Linked DNA regions of Homo sapiens: regions 1, 3 and 4 are each reported to be linked to region 2. The links are microRNA targets in miRTarBase. Many come from high-throughput screens and were not tested one by one. Region 2 holds a microRNA gene; each other region holds the end of a gene's coding sequence.

Region 1 (5,124 bases), not on the chromosome of region 2:
CTCAGCGGAGCGTCCGAAGAAGGCAGCGCCAGTGAGAGGAGGCGGCAGAAGCAGAAGGGAGGTGCTAGTCGGAGGCGCTTTGGGAAGCCCAAGGCCCGGGAGAGGCAGCGAGGTGAGTGGGGTGCATGGGGCGGGCGCTGAGGGGCCCGGGCTGCTGAATTGCTGTGTGTCCTTCCCAGAGGTCCCCCTTTCTCTCCAAGCCCCTCCAGCCTTGCTGGAGAAAGACCCACCGGGTTCTGTCTCTCCCTCCTCCACGTGTGGTCCTGGGTTTACTTTCTTTTTTTTTTTTGGCGGGGGGGACGTCTTGCCCCGTCGCCCAGGCTGGAGTGGTGCAGTGGCGCATTCTCACCTCACTGGAATCTCCGCCTCCCGGGTCCACGCCATTCTCCTGCCTCAGCCTCCCGAGTAGCTGGGACTACAGGCACCCGCCACCACGCCTGGCTAATTTTTTGTATTTTTAGTAGAGGCCAGGGTTTCACCGTGTTTGCCAGGATGGTCTGGATCTCCTGCCCTCGTGATCCACCTGCCTCGGCCTCCCAAAGTGCTGGGATTACAGGCGTGAGCCACCGCGCATGGCCTGTCCTGGGTTTACTTTTAAGTTTTGGTCCACCGTCGAGGGCAGGGCCACCTTGGGCACCTCCTTAACTTTCATCAGTAAGGAGGAGGTGCGCAGTAGGACCTACCTCACGGGGAGGGTGAGACTTGAATAAGTGAATTCACCTGAGGCAGGGAGACGAGGGTGATGGCTCGGGGTGTCGGGGGGTGCTGGGACCGCGTGGGTTGAACCCGGCCTCTTGGCTCATTTTGTCTCCTCACTCTCCTTCCTGGGCCTGCCTCTTCCCATTTCCCACTGGTCCAAGATCTGGCTGCGATTCTTCCCCTCCTCTCTGCCCCTTCCTTGCCTGTTGTTCTCCGTCTCCACCTGCACCGGCCCGTGCCTCTGCTCGCCGAGATCCTTTCTTCCCATGGCCGTTTCCCTTCCCGTGTCCGCCCCCTCAGTCTTGTGCCCTGCCCCTCACTTTCGTGTCCCCGCCTCCACCCCTCAGTGAAGGACGCCGACGGGGTCCTCTGCCGGTACAAGAAGATCCTGGGCACCTTCCAGAAGCTCAAGAGCATGTCGCGGGCCTTCGAGCACCACCGCGTGGACAGGAACACCGTGGCGCTGACCACGCCCATCGCCGAGCTGCTCATTGTGGCCCCCGAGAAGCTGGCCGAGGTGGGCGAGTTCGACCCCTCCAAGGAGCGCCTGCTCGAGTACTCCCGCCGCTGCTTTCTGGCCCTGGACGACGAGACGCTCAAGAAGGTGCAGGCGCTCAAGAAGAGCAAGCTGCTGCTGCCCATCACCTACCGCTTCAAGCGGTGATCGCACCACGCCTCCGCGCCTCCACCCGGGCCTTCCTCCCCCGTGGACCCCGGTGGATGACCTGCCCCTCTCCCCGCCGCGCCCCTGCCCCTCCTCCTCGCTCCCTGGGTTGGGGGCTCCCTTAGCCGGGCCCCCAAGCGCGACGGCCCCGGACCGGCCGCGGCCCCTTCCCGAACGCCGGCACCCCCTTCCGCTTGGGCTGCCCAGCCCTGTCCTCGCCGGGCCCCTTCCTCCTGGAAAACCAGGCAGGCGGGTGCCCCCCCCTCGAGTGGGGGACTGTACAGACCCCGTCTCCGCCCTGGCCCCGCGGAGGAGCTGCCCACCTGATTCCCGGACAGACCTCCCCAACTCCGCGTGAGACAGAGAATTATTCAGATAATTTAAATTAAAAAACGACGTGAAAATTTGGAATAAACTTGGCCTCAGCCTCTTCCTAGGAGGGGGACGTGCCTGGGAGGGGGCGGCCGTCGCCCCGAAGACGGTGACGGGGTTGCGGGGGCTTCCAAGGGGGTGGGTGGTCAGGCGGGAGGACGGGTAGGATACGGTGTAATTAGCCCCCCGGAGGCAGAGATGGAGAGTGAAGCAGCTGCGCCCCAGAAAACTCGGAGGCAGAGCTCGGGAAAAGAAGCGCGGACACAGCCGGGCGCGGTGGCTCACGCCTGTAATCCCAGCACTTTGGGAGGCCGAGGCAGGCGGATCACGAGTTCAGGAGATCGAGACCATCCTGGCTAACACGGTGAAACCCCGTCTCTACTAAAAATACAAAAAATTAGCCAGGTGTGGTGGCGGGCGCCTGTAGTCCCAGCTACTTGGAAGGCTGAGGCAGGAGAATCGCTTGAACCCGGCAGGCGAAGGTTCCAGTGAGCCGAGATCGCGCCACTGCACTCCAGCCTGGGCGACAGAGACTCCGTCTCAAAAAAAAAAAAAAAAAAGTAAAAAGAAGCGTGGACACTACCCGCTGGGCTACCCAGACCGGAGCGCGGCGCGAGAGGCGTGAGTCGATGACCTCTAGCGAGGGAGGCCACCTAGCGGCCAGGCCAAGTCTGGAGGATACTTCCGTTGGGCCGCCAGGGGGCAGTAACGCCAGATCATCTGTCTCCCGGAAGTAATGCCAGATGATCCGTCTGCCGCGCCTGCGCGGCGGGAAGAGCCGGAGCGCGTTGATGTGGTTGCCGAGACAACCAAGAGGGTGGCCGGATTTAACGGCTGGGGATTAAGCACTTTCACCGTTGTAAGGGAAATCTCGCGCACGCGCAATGGGGACTGAAACCTGGTCCCCGCAACCCCCTTCACGGGAGCAGTGGGAGAGCGCGCCACAGAACGACTTTTACGCAGGCGCAGAAGCCTGTTTCCCCTCACCCGCGGCTTCCACCCTGCGCAGGCGCAAAAAGCCGCGCTGGCAACCTCCGCAGCGGTCGCGCGCACCCTTCATCCCTCTTGCTGCTTTTGTCTGGCACAACCTTCTCAGGCCCTCCGCGAGGCCGGCCCTTTTTTTCTTTCACTTTCCCCACCCGGAGAGCCAGGTGCCGAGAACTAGGACCTCGTCCCCTTCTCTATCCCTTCCCCTGATCCATCTCGTCTCTGTTCTCCTTCCCTTTTCCGTTCCCGAAGCCGGAAGGAGCCGAGGTACCCACGGAAAAAGTCGAAGCTGTCCCCGGAGAGTGAGGCCTTCACGAAGCGGTGGCGGAAGGAGCCGAAGTTCTCTGATCGGAGGCGTGAGCAAGTGGCATCTCCGGAAAGAGCCGAAACACGGACTCGAGCTTAATCCCAGGAGGGGCCCGAGGGCGAGATCCGGAAATCTCCGGAAAGAGCCGAAGGCCGGGACGGTTAGGATTGTCGGAAGTGGCCGATTGCTTGGACAGGGCCGGCGGAGAAGATCGGAGCAAGTCCGTGGAAGAAGCCAAAGACTGGGACGGATTGAATTGTTGGAAGAACCCGAACTCGCAGAGGGGACTGGGCGCAGTGGCACACGAGGACACACGGAAACCTCCGAACGTTGAGGAGATAATCTCGGAAAAGTTACGGAAACCTGGGAAGTCGGCGAAACCCTACGTTCGGGTGTTTTCGGAAGCAGCCGAAGCGGCCGCCTGCTTCGCCTTCGTCCAGTATCCGGAGATAGCCGAGGCGCTTCGGAGCCAGGCTCGGGGGGAGGGGCAAGCTCGCGGGCGGGCGGGCGGGTGAGGGGGCGGAGCCCGGGCGGGGCGGGGAGGGCTGCCGGAGGCTTGATTAGGTAGGAGGTGGCGAAGCGCCGGCGGCGGCCGGAAGTAGCCGAAGCCAGCGGCGGAAGTAGCCGAAGCGGCTGGAGCGGGCGGCAAGGCGAGGCGAAAGCTGCACAGGGCCCTACGCGGCCGCCTCAGCATGTCGGACTTCGACGAGTTCGAGCGGCAGCTCAACGAGAATAAACAAGGTGAGGGCACCGGGGTCGCGGGGCGGAGGTGTGGGCGGCTCCTCGCGTCGCTCTTTGCCCCCCCGCCATTTTCTCCCTCGCTTCCCCCCACTTCACGGCCGCGCGGCGCCCCCCAACCCTGGTTCCGTGGCGCGCGCCTCGTTCACGTGACGTCCCCAGCGTTCCGCCGCGCGCTAGGCGAGGGGAAGGGGGCGGCGGGGCGCGGGCCCGTGACGCATGCGCACGGCGGCTGTCCCTGCGCCCCACGTGGTCCTGGCGGAGGTGGCGCGGGGGACGCGGCACGAGCGCGCCAGATGCCTCGACGTGAACTTTTGTTTTTTAAAATCTTTTTGGTTTCTCTGAAAAGGAGATTATGTTAGTCCCCGTAATCTCTTTTCTCCCGCTGCCTTGGCACTTCCGCTTCCGGTCGGGCCCACGGCAGCGTCTCCACGCCCCCTTTGTTTCCAAAATGGCGGTTGTGAGAACTTGGTGGGGGGGCCCCTTTCCTTCCTTCACGTGGATGAGGGCAGAGCCGTTTCGGCGGATGCTTGGAGGCCACGGGCCCCTCGCGTACCCCTTTTCCTTTTTGCTGATTTGCTCTGATCTCTCCCGCCAGGTGGTTTCTGCCCCGTCTGTTGGTAGTGGGGCGCCTCATATTAACGTGTTTGGCACATGTTGCCTAAAAGCATCTGCATTCTTTGAGTGTCCGCACGCACACATCCTGCATATGCGGGGCTTTTGGCGGTCCCGAGAATCGCGATATGGAGTGTTTGAGACAAACCTCAAATCATTTACAATCCCAATCTCAGGGCACCTGATAATACTCAGTCTCAGATCTCAATATAGAGATAAGAAAACAGGTTCTGAGGGAGGAAGAGGGATCTGGCCCACTGCGCTAAACTCTTCACTTACGGGGAAGGTGGGAGGCAGGTTCCCTTCAGGGTATCGAAAATTGTGATGGGTTAGAACAAAAAGCCTGGGGCCCTGATCTTAGGGATTCCAATAATATTAGAAGTGGGAGAGTTGTTAAGACGCTTTAAAAATCCTCCGTGTTTCAGTTTGTGAAGAAATACAGGACCAGGGAAGATTGGAGACTTGTTTCTTTTCAGGCTTCAGCTGCCCATGTTCCTAGCTCGTTCGGAGGACGAAATGAGGGCTGAGGAATTTTCCTTTGAACCCGGGCTAGAGTTGGGTAGGGGCTGTATTAGGAAACAGTGTCCTGGGGAAGCAATAACGTTTACTGAGGGTCTGACTCTGTCTTAGTTGATGGACTGCTCAAGAGCATAGGCTTTGGAGTTGAGCACATCAGGAAGTTTAGATACCTGCTTTGTCGTTTAGTAACTGCTTTTAATACGTTTATATATTTTTTTCCATT
Region 2 (5,124 bases):
TGTAGAGGACAGTGACTGTTCATGTCTAATGTTTTCATTCAGTGGTTACCCCACCACCGTGCAAAACAGGACACTAAATAAATGTTATTTGTAAAGGATACTGATCACAGTTAGAAGTAAATCCCTGGTAAGAGTTGAAGGTTGTTCTCCCTGAGCTTTAAGAAACCCCAGAGGCAACACTGGCTTTGCCCTAGGCAGCCCTAAGACTAGTCATTCAGGCACAAGTATACAAATTACTCCCACTCACAGGAGAGCAAGACCCTTTTCCCAAGCACGTGCAATTAAAACTAAAGGGTAAACCATGTTCACATCTTAGGTCCTAATGCAGAAACTCACCGATAGCTTGGGAGACTGTCCTCAAACCAAACATCAAAAAATTGTTTTAAGTATAACTCTTACAATGTTACCTCACTAAATCTGATTATATCAAAACTGATTTTTAGATTAAGTCTTTGGGGTAATTAACTCTGGTTACTAAGAAGTCACCTTTTTCAAATATTTCTTATATATGGCAAAATAAATTTGGGGAAGGAATTCCTCAGAACTAAAAATGAGGAATAATACAAAGAAAAAAATCAAGCTAATATCACAGTTCACTTTTCTACAGATATTGCAAGTAAATCTTAAGGATCATTTCCAGCTTAACATCTAATAATGCAATCCTTCTTTATTCTCAAAGTGTGTATTAAGATGTTAGCACAGAGTTACTTCAAGCGTGTTTCTCATTTCACCAACAGCAATGGAAAGCTCTCAGCTGTGTGAACCACCGTCTCATGGTTCCTTTAAAACCGTAAAGTCTCAAATCAAACACCTCCTTAATCATACATTGATTCTGTATATTTGTGCCTGTCAATCCAGTCAATGTACCTAAATGAGGAATGAATGAACTCTCTCAAGTGTGATGAAAGACTATTCTTCTTTGAAGAAACCAATAATAAATGCATTCTTTAATTCAGAGATGGCATACATCTGTCATCAATTGGTATCAAATTTTAATGCATATTAATGCAAAAACACTTATTCTTCCAGTATTAATGAAGTCATGGAATCCAAAGGTACTCCTCAACTATATGTTAATTGATGTGTTGTACTGCCATCCTCTCCCATCCCCAACTGCTATGCTTGTTCAAGAATTCGAGATGGTAAACGAAGCTAGGTAGTACCATGTGGTGGGTATACATGTGACAGCAACCAGTTTGTAGGTCTCATGACTGCCTTGAAAGTTCTTCAAGTACAGCTGGGATTTTTAATAGCATCCCAACTGGAACTGTCACAGTAGCCAGTAGCCACTGATAATGTAACATTACAAATGATGGACAACAATTTCCTATTTTCATTCTTGAATTCCTACAAAACTTGAGTAAGCATTATACAACCCAAAATATTATCAAATTAATCAGTGAGAAAAACTTTTAAGTGTCAAAAGGAAGTACCCTCTTTACCTTTATGACCTTTTTAACAATGGCTAAAATCAATCCATATTACTAAAATGTTTAATAATGTTCATCAACAAAGTTGAAGCACACATAACACAAACTGTAAAAAGCAGGAAATAATTTTTTAAAATTACTTTCCCTAGTACCTGAAAGAAAAGTTTACAACTTTAACTATATAGGAAACCTTTCCCTTAAGATCCAGCCAACTAAAACTGGATGTCACACACAGGTAGCACAAAGGGACAACACAACATTCATCCAGGAGTCTAAATAAAATGACTCTTTCCACTTACACTGCAGTGGCACAAAATAGGAATACAGAAATCATTTCACATTCCAATAAAACATTTTATTTTAACACATAATGCAGAGTTCTTCACCTGTGCATCTTTAGAGGTCTACGGTTTGTATACAAAATGTTGTGTATATACACCTGCCTATGAAAAGTCTATAGTTCTCACCACATTTTAAAAATACAGCCAAAAACAATGTTAGGAACCCATAGAGAGAATCATAAAAATTTTCCCTACCACTAATTTAACATTACTTTCATATGACCCAGCAAAAAGAAATGCTCAACAGTGAAGGATACTAAAATAGTTACAGTAAGGTTTGGCTCACAACAGACTTCTACACAGAAAGCATTTTATTTTAATTTAAATTCATTCTCAAATGTCAAGAAAAAACTAAGGACTCTTATCAACCACTCTGACAAACTCTCAAAATAGGACACTAATAGGAAGATGATTAGCTTGGACTATATGCAAATCCATTCTGAATTCTTGTAAACTGAAACATTTTTGTTCCCATAGGAATTTTAAGCTCAGAGAGGGTATGGCCACAGCTAGCTTTTTTTCCTTTGTTTTTGCAAGTTGTTCCCCCTGTTGCTGATTTTCCTGAAATATCTTACATACAGCAAAGATTTGTTAAACATCTAAACAAACAAATGAATAAATTACAATTACATGAAACTAGGAGTCAGATGGAAACCACCAGTTCTTTACAGGTACCAGCATAAGCTTGCCAGGTATTGTCTATGGATCAAATCTCTGTTTCTGGCCATTTTTTTTTTTTAATGAACATATTAAGTGGCACGACACAATAAGGACAAAATGTGACAACATTATCACAAGGTATGCATTTCAGTACAACTTTAAAACCAGGGAACAGGGCAGTACTGAGTAGAGATGAAATAAACAAACAGAAGCCGAGCCGGTCAGGACCGAGTAAGGTTGAGGTTAGTGGCAACAGCATGTGCGTGGTTTCCAGGAAACCTTCAGTAAGACTGCTGTTAGCCCTAGCCCCGCACCTTGCCCAACCCAGTGTGCTGCGTCTTCTTCCAGCTCCCGCCTGGCTCAGTGCAGCACTGCCCTGCTCCCAGGGGTGCAGCCGCCCAGCCTGAACTCACCTTGGCAGTAGAAGGGCCTGAAGTTTAAAACATGTTAATGCATCATGCCAAAAATGCAATCAACATGCACACTTCATACACTCATGTTTCCAAAGAGATAGAAAATGTGCCACCAATAAGAAACCTCTACACAGAACACCCTCAAAGGAGTTGGAGAAACAATTTTTTAAACACCCACATTTACCACAAAAGTAGGAACACAACAACAGTGGTATTACTGCACCATGAAATTTCACCTAATGGATTAAAGTACCAAAAATAATCATGGCATCACCTACTTTAACTGCCATTATTTGCCCACTTGGTTTGTGGACCATTTTGTTGACAGAACCATAAGCTCCTCGTCCAATTTCTCCAAGGTCTTTCAAGTCCTCTGCAGTGAAATCCCAGTGTTGTTCAGGGGAGATCTTCAGTTTTCCTGATGACTCAATGCTGTGTGTTCTCAGTCTCTCTCTGTTAAAATATTGGGAAGCAATTTTTCCACATTTTAAATAGGTTTTAACTTTTTTCTTTTAGTACTGATTAATGTGTGGGAAAAATGTTTTCTAAATTACTAAAATAGTCTGACCTCCAGGTTTTTGAAGTTTTTCATTTGTGTCATCCTGGTTTTTTACACACTGGATTAAGAATGATCTAGATTTAGGTAGTCAATAGACACAGCTTCAACGGGATTCATAAAAACAAATTGCCAAGAAGATTTTTAAAAATTCCCATTTATTGATTAAACTAATTCTGCAGATCAGTTTTCATTTCTAAATATAAGATCTTATTCAAACTTGGATGATGGTTTATCCAAACAGCATTATCAAGTGAGAATCCCAAGAGCTGCAAACCTTATTGCGAAAAAGTTCTTACCCTATCTTACCCAACATTAGTTATTCCAGTGCCTCAATCTTCAGTTAGTACAACTATTCCCAAGGTTTGCTGTACCTTACAATCACCTGGGGGAGATTTTAAAAATCTCAATGCCCAGGTATCGTCCCATAGCAATTACATCTGAATTATCCAGGGACAGGAGTCAGAAAACAGTATTTTTAAAGACCCCCAGATGATTCCAGTAATGTTTGGGAACTAGTGCCTTAGTATACTGTCCTGTTCTTGTTAATACCATCCTGAGGTGGGAGAACAGTTAACTGAATAGCTAGCTGGCTCTAAGAGGAAAATTGCCATGTGCTATTCAAAATTGAAATTTTCAGCCCTCGTTCGATAAAGCAATGGGATAAAAAATGAGTGGCTCGTAGACAAAAGAGCTCACTCATTACATATTTCCATTAAATAAAAAATCATCTCCAAAATCTCAACCTGGAGATCAAAGTATTAATAACTTCTAACCATGCTTTGTAAAAAAGTAAATCCAATGAAAAATGTAAAATCAATCTGTTTCTCTCTCTTGCTCTCTCTCACACACACACCAAACCCCAATGTGTAGGAACAAACTATCAACCATACACACAATGAAAGAATTCATTAAATATCAACTACATTTTTCAGTTTCATACTAAATGATCAGGATCTCTTTTAAACTCTGATCCTATGATGCAAACAAGCAAAGTTTATGTGCTTGGTCATTATTTTTCTTCTTCCAAAATTTAGGAAAGTTTTCTCCAATTAGTAGAATGGTTTTCTGTAGCAACCTTTAAGGTTCCCAAAAAACTTAGAACTTTAAAATCTACCCCCACTCTGAGAATAATCGTATGTACTAATATTAAGGTTCAAAGTTACACTTCAAAGATTCATACACTTGGTCTAAATAACAATTTACTAAATCAGTGTTCCAAATAACAGACTTTCAAATCATACTAAGTGATAAGCTTTCATTCATACAAGTGCTTTTCAGTTCAAAGTCCTTTCACCCATATTATTTGATACTCTAGCATCCAGAATCACAAGAAGCCCGGAAATCAGTGGCATAAGTGACCATTTAGGTGAAGATGAAGCTGGAACTGATCTTTTAAGATGGAAATCAGGTCTAGGCAAAAATAGGAAACTCTTCTTGGTAATCTTTTTCATGAAGTAGACAGATTAAGCCTGAAAAAAGTTCTAACATGAAGAAGTTCCATGTATAATGATTATTGTTCTATAATCTTTGGCAAGTAAATACTATCTCAATGGCAAAATCACTGGTGAAATATACAGCACCAATCTACCACTGAGGGAAGCTGAAAAAAAGTTAATTAAAATTACTTGTAAATCAGAAGCAAAATTTTTTACAGTGTTCGCTAATTGAAGGGCTGTGGCAGACAGGCTCCAGGAAGTCCTCATGATCCCCACCTTCTTAGT
Region 3 (3,896 bases), not on the chromosome of region 2:
CTACCAATCGTGAAAACTATATTCACAGGTGAGAAGCCAGCATCTTGGCTGTATTGAAAAAAATTCATACGTTTTTCTACTGTGATTTGTATGAAAGGTAACATCAAATCAAGGAATAGATTCAGTAAAGTCAGTAGTGTTCAGTAAGATGATGTAATTAAATTTGTACTAGGGAAGGTTGATGAGAACAAAGTGGGAAAACTTGTAAACATTGCCCAGATTGTGGACATAGGGTTTTTTTCCACAATTGTTGGTCTTACCTTATGCTTGAGCTTTTAGTGATGTTCTTGTGTCCATGTGTTTTTCTTGGTGATTTTTTCTATAGTTGGGATTTTCTTGGTGTCGCCTGGTAGCAATTTGAGTGAACCCTGGTTTAGTTATAGTGGCTTTATCCCTAAATAAATTGAATTGTACTTTGTTATATGATGTAAAAAAAGACTTTTTAAAAAATACAGGAGTCGATAGCAGCAGTTGGTGACGAGATGGCACTCAGAAACGGCGTTGACGTAATTTAGGACGTGGAATCATAAGCGAAACAGCACACTGTTTGAATAAAGAGCGAGTCGGTATTTATATTTGTTTTTCTTTTGTCATGATTATTTGATTTTTAAGTTGCTCCAGCTAAGGCATTTTTTTGTATTAGTATTTCTATTAGGGAACCTTTCTTATTAGGTGGTTTGTATTGTCTGGTTTCTAACATGCAGGTAGCTGTTTGGCAGTTAAACACGTTTAGAGTAATTTGAGTTACAACGTGTGAAACTGAGCAAAAAAGCAGTGATAAGTTTGGGTTACCATACCAAATATTTGTTTTCCCACTGGAAAAAAGTAAGTTTTAGAAAATAGTTAACCTTTGCAGCATTTGTTTACAGTTTACAGTTCCAGAAGTGCGTCGAAATGGATTACATAACTGCTCTTTTATTCCTGGTGTTCACATCTGTCCCAGGCTGACACCTGCTCTTGGCTGGCCCACTTTGGTATGGGCTTTAATTTCACTACCCCAAACACGATACTGTCATCTGCTTTATAATAATGCTCAAGATGCCTGATAAAAATCTCATTTTGCAGCCAGACAAGCCTTGAATCCTTTTGGCACTAACTGCAAAGGAAGATTTTTTTCTCTAGATATGCATTAGCAGCTAGTGCTCCAGTTAGAAGCACGAACTATAACCTTGATAAGTAAACAGCAGCTGGTGGTTAACAAGTGGATCGTCATGTTCAGTAGTTTATACATTATGTGAGAAGTAACGTTCTGATTCTTTTTCTTACACAGAATTGGCAGAGGGGGTCGATTTGGGAGGAAAGGTGTGGCTATAAACTTTGTTACTGAAGAAGACAAGAGGATTCTTCGTGACATTGAGACTTTCTACAATACTACAGTGGAGGAGATGCCCATGAATGTGGCTGACCTTATTTAATTCCTGGGATGAGAGTTTTGGATGCAGTGCTCGCTGTTGCTGAATAGGCGATCACAACGTGCATTGTGCTTCTTTCTTTGGGAATATTTGAATCTTGTCTCAATGCTCATAACGGATCAGAAATACAGATTTTGATAGCAAAGCGACGTTAGTCGTGAGCTCTTGTGAGGAAAGTCATTGGCTTTATCCTCTTTAGAGTTAGACTGTTGGGGTGGGTATAAAAGATGGGGTCTGTAAAATCTTTCTTTCTTAGAAATTTATTTCCTAGTTCTGTAGAAATGGTTGTATTAGATGTTCTCTATCATTTAATAATATACTTGTGGACTAAAAGATATAAGTGCTGTATAAAATCAGCCAATTATGTTAAACTAGCATATCTGCCTTTATTGTGTTTGTCATTAGCCTGAGTAGAAAGGCCTTTAAAATTTTTTTAGAAAGCATTTGAATGCATTTTGTTTGGTATTGTATTTATTCAATAAAGTATTTAATTAGTGCTAAGTGTGAACTGGACCCTGTTGCTAAGCCCCAGCAAGCAATCCTAGGTAGGGTTTAATCCCCAGTAAAATTGCCATATTGCACATGTCTTAATGAAGTTTGAATGTTAAATAAATTGTATATTCACTTTAAAGGTGCTTTTGGTCATTTTATTTTTATTACAACTTCATTATTTACAAAACCCCCCATCCAGATATATTCACGTTAACAATTCTGAGATAACTGCTGCATCACAGTTGCACAAAGGCTGATGAGTTGCAAATGTTCATCAGCACCATCTGCTAGGCATTTGTCAACTTCCTACGAGAAAAATTTAAGAAATTAGCATCCTTCAGGTAGTTAAATGTTCCATTGACATGTGCAAAGTACCTACTTACGGCAAGTTTTTCTGTGATAATAGACTTCTGTTTATCAGATAAGTTATTTTCTACAACCACATCATGGAGTTGATTGACGAGCTGAGTTGCTGCATGACCCTCATCTATTAAATCCTATAATAAAAAAAACTTTTGGTATGATGACTTAATATTCCTTTCCCCAAAGTTAGTAAGCTGACTTTACCTTGACCACAGCTTCTAGTTTGTCAAAAGAGCCACTCTGACAGGCAGCAAATACTCCATCAATTTTCTCAGCTGGTATTACCTAGGTAATTGAATGTTCGGTATTAAAGATGTTTCTAGGTGAGACTAGACATACACTCTGCCAACTGGCCCCCGTGCCCCCAGTCATTTCTGTTCCACACCTAAGTTCCATACTTTCCTGGGAAGGCTTTGGGAGAACGGAAAGGGCCAGAGTAACTCCAGTCACCACTAAGCAACCAAGGTGCTAACAACTGTGCTTTTAAAGCCCTTTAATGGCTTTGTGAACTTCCAAGTTTGGGCACACATGGATTATAGCTTGTTCTGGTCAGTGGATGAAGATTAAGTTTTCCCCTAGCGGCTATAACGATTCCTCAGAACAGTGGCCAAGATCAATCAAAAAGACTGATTTCTTTAAAGGGGAAGTGCCCTTTCTCTCAATGTCTCCATGTAAAGATGCCACTAATGAGATTGGTTTAAAAAGTCCACAATATCCAGAAAATTAAAGAGGATTAGTGGTACCAGTCTTGTCATATGGAAGGCCTACCGTGAAGGTGAAAAACGTCATAGAAACAAAGAGGATTAGTGGTACCAGTCTTGTCATATGGAAGGCCTACCGTGCAGGTGAAAAATGTCACAGAAACAAAAGTTGTTAAGTAGTAGTGATTCTGAAGTGAGTTTTTACATGGGAGTATCCAAAGACAAGTGGGGTACTCCATTCTCTTTAATAAATGATTACTGTAAGTTGGATATGCCTTTTGTTTATATACAACTGGCAAAATAGTTTTCATGTATAAGAACATCTGCTAAAATTGATTTAACTGCCAAAGGCATCTCTTATAAAATCTAAAAACTGAAGGCTGGGTGCGGTGGCTCCCACCTATAATCCCAGCACTTTGGAAGGCTAAGCGGGGGGCGGATCACCTGAGGTCAGGAGTTCCATACCAGCCTGGTCAACCAACATCGTGAAACCCCGTCTCTACTAAAAATATACAAATTAGCTGGGCATGGTGGCAGGTGCCTGTAATCCCAGCTAATTGGGAGGGTGAGGCGGGAGGTGGAGGTTGCAGTGAGTCGGTATTGCGTCACTGCACTCCAGCCTGGGCGACACAGCAAGACTCTGTCTCAAAAAAAAAAAAACAAAAAAACTAACAACTGAAAGTGTCCTTTTCTTTCCTGAAATGTCTGTTACATGCCTGACAAACTGAAAAGTCAGTGCTATCTCCTCACCTCAAACACTCTGATACTCCCAGGTTATTCCCTTATACTTCCTAGTGCAGTACTTGGCACTTGCTAAACACCCAGTATTTGTTGGATGAAAATTTCCTAAAAGCCACAAAAAAGCCAACTAAAAAGAAATTCAGAATATCCAGTACTCTTACCCCGGCAATGTCTGTAATCACTTTCT
Region 4 (5,124 bases), not on the chromosome of region 2:
TCCTGAGTAGCTGGGACTACAGGCGCGAGCCACCATGCCCTGCTAATTTTTGTATTTTTAGTAGAGACGGGGTTTCACCATATTGGTCAGACTGGTCTCGAACTCTTGACCTCAGGTAATTGCAAAAAGCTGGGCGTAGTGGCTCACATCTGTAATCCCAGCACTTTGGGAGGCCCAGGTGGGTGGATCACTTGAGGTCAGGAGTTCAAGACCAGCCTGGCCAACATGGTGAAACCTCGTCTCTACTAAAAATACAAAAATTAGCTGGGCATGGTGGCGGGCGCCTGTAGTCCCAGCTATTCTGGAGGCTGAGGCAGGAGAATCGCTTGAACTGGGGAGGCAGAGGTTGCAGTGAGCCGAGATCAAGCCACTGCACTCCAGCCTGGGCAACAGAGACTCCGTCTCGAAACAAAACAAAACCAAAAGTGAAGTAGAGGTTCCTCTTCAAAGAGACTTTCCTCCCTGTCTAATTAAGAAGAAATACCAACTTCTCCTAGGAGCAAAATTTATTCAAAGACCTGTGCTAACATTCTTAAATATCTGCTAGCCATAATAAAGAAATCAATATACTTTGTGTTCTTAGCTCCCACAATTTAGCCTAAATATTTGCCCTGGCATGCTTATACTGGTCCAAGCAAACATTAGGTCATAGCCTGTTCCTCTTCCTTATTTGGAGGTGTTTTTTTTTTTACCTTTCTCAGCATCCCGCAAGTTACTTCCTCCTGCCTGTATTCTCCTTGCCTTTGCCTCTTTTGAAAAGTTCTAAGTTGCTAGCCAATGGGGACAAATAGAGAATGTGAGGTCCCATTCCAGTGAATGGAAACCAGGCACAGCAGTAGGGTGGATGCACCAGGTTATAAATGACCCTGTCTCTTTTGTTCGGTGTACTCTCGTGGCAAAACTGCTGGTGAGTGTACCCTTTCTGCAGAAAGTAAAAATGGCCTTGCTGAGAAAATTAAATATATGTTCAAGTGCTATTTCTTTATAGCACCGGGGAACAAGCATTTCTAACATCCACCCACCTCAGCCTCCCAAAGTGCTGGGATTACAGGTGTGAGCCACGGCACCCAGCCATGCTGGCTCTTGTCTTTAAAACTTCTCTGTGGCTGGGCAAGGTGGTTCACGCCTGTAATCCCAGCACTTTGGGAGGCCAAGGCCAGCAGATCACTTGAGGTCAGGAATTTGAAACGAGCCTGACCAGTATGGCAAAACCATCTCTACTAAAAATACAAAAATTAGCCAGGCATGGTGGTGTGCACCGGTAGTCCTAGCTACTTAGGAGCCTAAGGCAGGAGAATCACTTGAACCCAGGAGGTGGAGATTGCAATGAGCCGAGATCGCCCCACTGTCTGCACTCCAGCCTGGATGACAGAGTAAGACTCTGTCTCAAAAAAAAAAAAAAAAAAAAAAAAAAAGCTCTGGGTGTTTTTGAAAGTATTCTCATTGCCAGGCAGGAACAGGGTGTTGCAGATCCATCCTGACATTTTTCCTGCCTCAAGACATGGATTCAACTGCTACTCAAGGAATCCTGTTTCCTTTTAGTGGAGTATTAAATATCTAGGTGCTGGAGATGTACGTAAGAATTGTTGATGGGCAGCTGGTGGCGGTGGTTCACACCTGTAATTCCAGCACTTTCAGAAGCCGAGGTGGGTGGATCATGAGGTCAGGAGTTTGAGACCAGCCTGACCAACATGGTAAAACCCCATCTCTACTAAAAATATGAAAATTAGCCAGGCATGGTGGTGCACACCTGTAATCCCAGCTACTTAGGAGGGTGAGGCAGAAGAATTGCTTGAACCCAGGTGGAGGTTACAGTGAGCTGAGATTGCACCACTGCACTCCAGCCTGGCAATAGGGTGAAACTCCATCTCCAAAAAAAAAAAAAAAAAAAAAAAAAAGAATTATTGATGGGCACAAGTGCTACTGTTGCTGCTACTACTATTAGACCTTTTTTTTAGTGACAAAGTCAAAGATTTCATTTAAGGTTACTAAATTCAAACTATTCAGACTGAGTATTTTCAGTATGACAAACTACACTGTACTTTTCTTACTCCAACATTGATGGTCCACATTTAACTGTTTGAAAATCAGACTGGGCCAGGGGTGGTGGCTCACGCCTGTAATCCCAGCACTTTGGGTGGCTGAGGATCACGAGATTGCGCCACTGTGCTCCAGCGGGTGATGGTGAGACTCCATCTCAAAAAGTCTTAAGTAACTTCCACAGTCTCAGAGCTGTTAAGTGGTAGACCCAAATTTGAACCAGTGTTTCATTTAAACACTTAAGATCTCAACCTAAGAACAAGCTAAGCAGGGTCTAGGCAATTGTTGCAAGAAACCTGAAAGCTGCAGCCAGAGGAATTGGGAAATTCCGTTTTCCTTTCTTAGCTTGAGAAGGAAAGCACCCAAGGTTACACTTATTGGTGAAACCAGAACTAGACCACAAACCTGAATTCCTAAGTCCTATCACCGTTTTTTTCTTTTCTCACTGCAACCTCTGCCTCCCGGGTTCAAGCGATTCTCCTGCCTCAGCCTCCCAAGTAGCTGGGATTACAGGTGCCTGCCACCATGCCCAGCTAATTTTTTGTATTTTTAGTAGAGTCGGGGTTTCACCATGTTGGTCAGGCTGGTCTTGAACTTCTGACCTCAGGTGATCTGCCCGCCTCAGCTTCCCAAAGTGCTGGGATTACAAGCATGAGCCACTGGGCCCGGCTGGCAGTTAGACCTTCAGAGTCTCAGTTTATATAAATGTAGCATAGGCTTAATAGTCCCAAACCTAACATTGAGGGTTAAAATTACCTATCCTGATGTCTAATGCATAGCAAACACTTGGTTAGTTTTTCCTCTCCTATTAATCTCTAGTCTTCTGTCACTCTCCCTGCTCTAATACGAACTAAGTCCAGGTGTTTCTTATTCCTTGTTCTTCTAATAAACTAGTTGGCCTCTTAAGATGTAAATTATCTCCCTAGATTTCTTTTACTTGAGTTTGCTTGCTTGCCACTTTTACAGCCCAAACTACATTCTAGACAAGATTTCTTCAGTTAACATGCCTTTTATTCAATCCCCTCTCATTTGCTGACCAATCCTCCTTTTTTAAATTTCTTTGGGTACCTAGCAGGTGTATTTATTTCTGGGGTACAAGAGATGTTTTGATGTAGGCATGCAGTGTGAAATAATTATATCATGGAGAATCATATCATGGAGAATCATATCATGGAAATGGAGGGGTGATCATCATCACCCCTCAACCATTTATCCTTTGTTACAATCCAATTACATTCTTTTATTTTTAAATGTACAATTATTATTGACTATAGTCACCCCGTTGTGCTATCAAATAGATCCTTTTTTTTGTACCCCAAACACAACGAAATTACCAAAGCCAAAGGTATTCTAGGTACAGGATTTCAAGTGACTGACTTTTCATGTGATGATGGACTTTATTTCTCCCCTCTACTTCTGTCCAAGGTAAGGACAGCAAAAATATTTGCCTCAATGCCTTGCTTGCAGCAGCAGCCCAAAGGCCATGCTGAGGAGCTGGAGTTCCCTCCAACCTCCCAGATTTTACAGCTCCAAGAGAGATTACATCCTTGCACCGGGGAAAATAGAAACTGTCTTTCCCCATTATCAATGGAATAATGTAGTTCAGTCTGCAACAAAGAGAAACATGAAAATATCATAGATAGGATAATGTTTTACACACATGCCAGCCTGCCCTTCAACTGGCTTTCAATTTTCAGTATCTTCTAATCATGGAAATGCTAACACAATTATTAACTTTAAACAAATTTTTATTACACAAAGGTTGTCACATAATTGGATACTTCTCTACTTTGTACACAATTATTCTCACTCTCCACAGAAAGGCTGCTTAACTTCTCATCTGGTGGTGGCAAGCACTAAAATCCTGATTTTAACAGAATAGTAGTAAAAATGCCTCAGTGATTTAAGTTGAAAGCAGTACACTGGTACATGGCTCTTGTACCCAGTATCAGGAATGTACAAATGTTTTTTATTCAAAAATACAAAATAAATTATCTGTAGGCATGGACAATGACAGCAGTAAACCATTATATATTTTGTCAACTGAAACCAGTAACTGATGGTTATAGTGATTTTCAGCCAGCCTTTTTCTTCATTTTCTCCAACTGACTTCTCTGAAGTTATTGGTGAGGAACACTGCCTTGGGCTTCCTGTCACAGTTCATTAATAAAGGTAAAGCACTAGTCTAGGAGTTAGAACATGCCACCTCCCATACCACCTCCCATTCCACCCATTGCACCCATTCCAGGGTCCTTCTCTTCTTTAGGAATTTCTGTGACTACAACTTCTGCTGTAGTTAACAGAGAGGCCACACCAGCAGCATCCAATAAAGCAGTTCTCACAACCTAGAAAAAAATTTAATTAATTAGTTTTCCCTTAGTAAAATATGAGCAAGACTTATTGAAAATTTCTGTCTGGGCATGGTGGCTCACACCTGTAATCCAGCACTTTGGGAGGCTGAGGCAGGTAGATGACTTGAGGTTAGGAGTTCAAGACCAGCCTGGCCAACATGATGAGACCCCGTCTCTACTAAAAATACAAAAATTAGCCAGGCATGGTGGTGCATGCCTGTAATCCCAGCTACTCAGGAGCCTGAGGCAGGAGAATCGCTTGAACCCAGGAGGTGGAGGTTGTCACTGCCTGCACTCCAGCCTGGGCGACACAGCGACTCTGTCTTCAAAACAAAACAAAACCCTGTTCTGCGTATCTTGGAAAGTATTCTTACTGCCAGGCAGGAACAGGGTGTTCCAGATCCATCCTGATTTTTTCCTGCCTCCAGGCATGGACTCAACTGCTACTCAAGGGATCCTGCTTCCTTTTAGTGGAGTATTAAATATCTAGGTGCTGGAAATGTACATGAGAATTGTTGATGGGCACAAGAGCTATTGCTGTTGCTACTGCTATTAGACTATTTTTCTGGTGACAAAATCAAAGATTTGGGATGTGAGGATACATTAACAAAATGAACAACAAAAGAATTTTTAGAAAGTGTTCAACCATTTACCTTTGTTGGGTCAATGATTCCTTTTTCCACCATATTCACAAAATCTCCAGCCATAGCATCATAACCAACTTCTGAGGAAC

Evidence for each region. Region 2 holds the annotated microRNA hsa-miR-744-5p (UGCGGGGCUAGGGCUAACAGCA, at 2,723-2,744, opposite strand). A microRNA usually pairs through its seed, bases 2 to 8, with sites in the 3' UTR of a target mRNA and lowers its output. Matches are read on the target gene's strand: a 7mer-m8 pairs with bases 2 to 8, a 7mer-A1 pairs with bases 2 to 7 and ends in A, and an 8mer does both.
Region 1: miRTarBase lists CCDC106 as a target of hsa-miR-744-5p. Seed matches in the 3' UTR shown: 7mer-m8 at 1,665-1,671.
Region 3: the mRNA of EIF4A2 is a reported target of hsa-miR-744-5p. The part of its 3' UTR that is shown has no 7-base or 8-base seed match.
Region 4: the mRNA of HSPD1 is a reported target of hsa-miR-744-5p. The part of its 3' UTR that is shown has no 7-base or 8-base seed match.

What each region holds. Positions count from the first base shown.
Region 1 is chr19:55,651,384-55,656,507 of GRCh38, forward strand. CCDC106 (coiled-coil domain containing 106) reads left to right here. Exons shown (of 5, transcript NM_001370470.1): 4 at 1-112; 5 at 1,047-1,778. The coding sequence ends at 1,363. It overlaps U2AF2 (U2 small nuclear RNA auxiliary factor 2), which reads left to right and starts at 3,652. Exons shown (of 12, transcript NM_007279.3): 1 at 3,652-3,770. The coding sequence starts at 3,722. RefSeq lists enhancers at 2,778-3,447, 4,398-4,477 and silencers at 3,498-3,547, 3,638-3,687, 3,898-4,037.
Region 2 is chr17:12,079,529-12,084,652 of GRCh38, reverse strand. MIR744 (microRNA 744) reads right to left here and starts at 2,754; the gene lies at 2,657-2,754. MAP2K4 (mitogen-activated protein kinase kinase 4) reads right to left here. Exons shown (of 11, transcript NM_003010.4): 3 at 3,123-3,297.
Region 3 is chr3:186,787,855-186,791,750 of GRCh38, forward strand. EIF4A2 (eukaryotic translation initiation factor 4A2) reads left to right here. Exons shown (of 11, transcript NM_001967.4): 10 at 1-28; 11 at 1,271-2,043. The coding sequence ends at 1,415. RFC4 (replication factor C subunit 4) reads right to left here. Exons shown (of 11, transcript NM_002916.5): 8 at 3,871-3,896; 9 at 2,472-2,552; 10 at 2,288-2,401; 11 at 2,046-2,210. The coding sequence ends at 2,115. Among named protein-coding and RNA genes, the nearest start is that of SNORA4, 2.2 kb to the left of the region's middle.
Region 4 is chr2:197,482,814-197,487,937 of GRCh38, forward strand. HSPD1 (heat shock protein family D (Hsp60) member 1) reads right to left here. Exons shown (of 12, transcript NM_002156.5): 11 at 5,045-5,124; 12 at 3,771-4,385. The coding sequence ends at 4,233. It overlaps SNORA105B (small nucleolar RNA, H/ACA box 105B), which reads right to left and starts at 4,090; the gene lies at 3,975-4,090.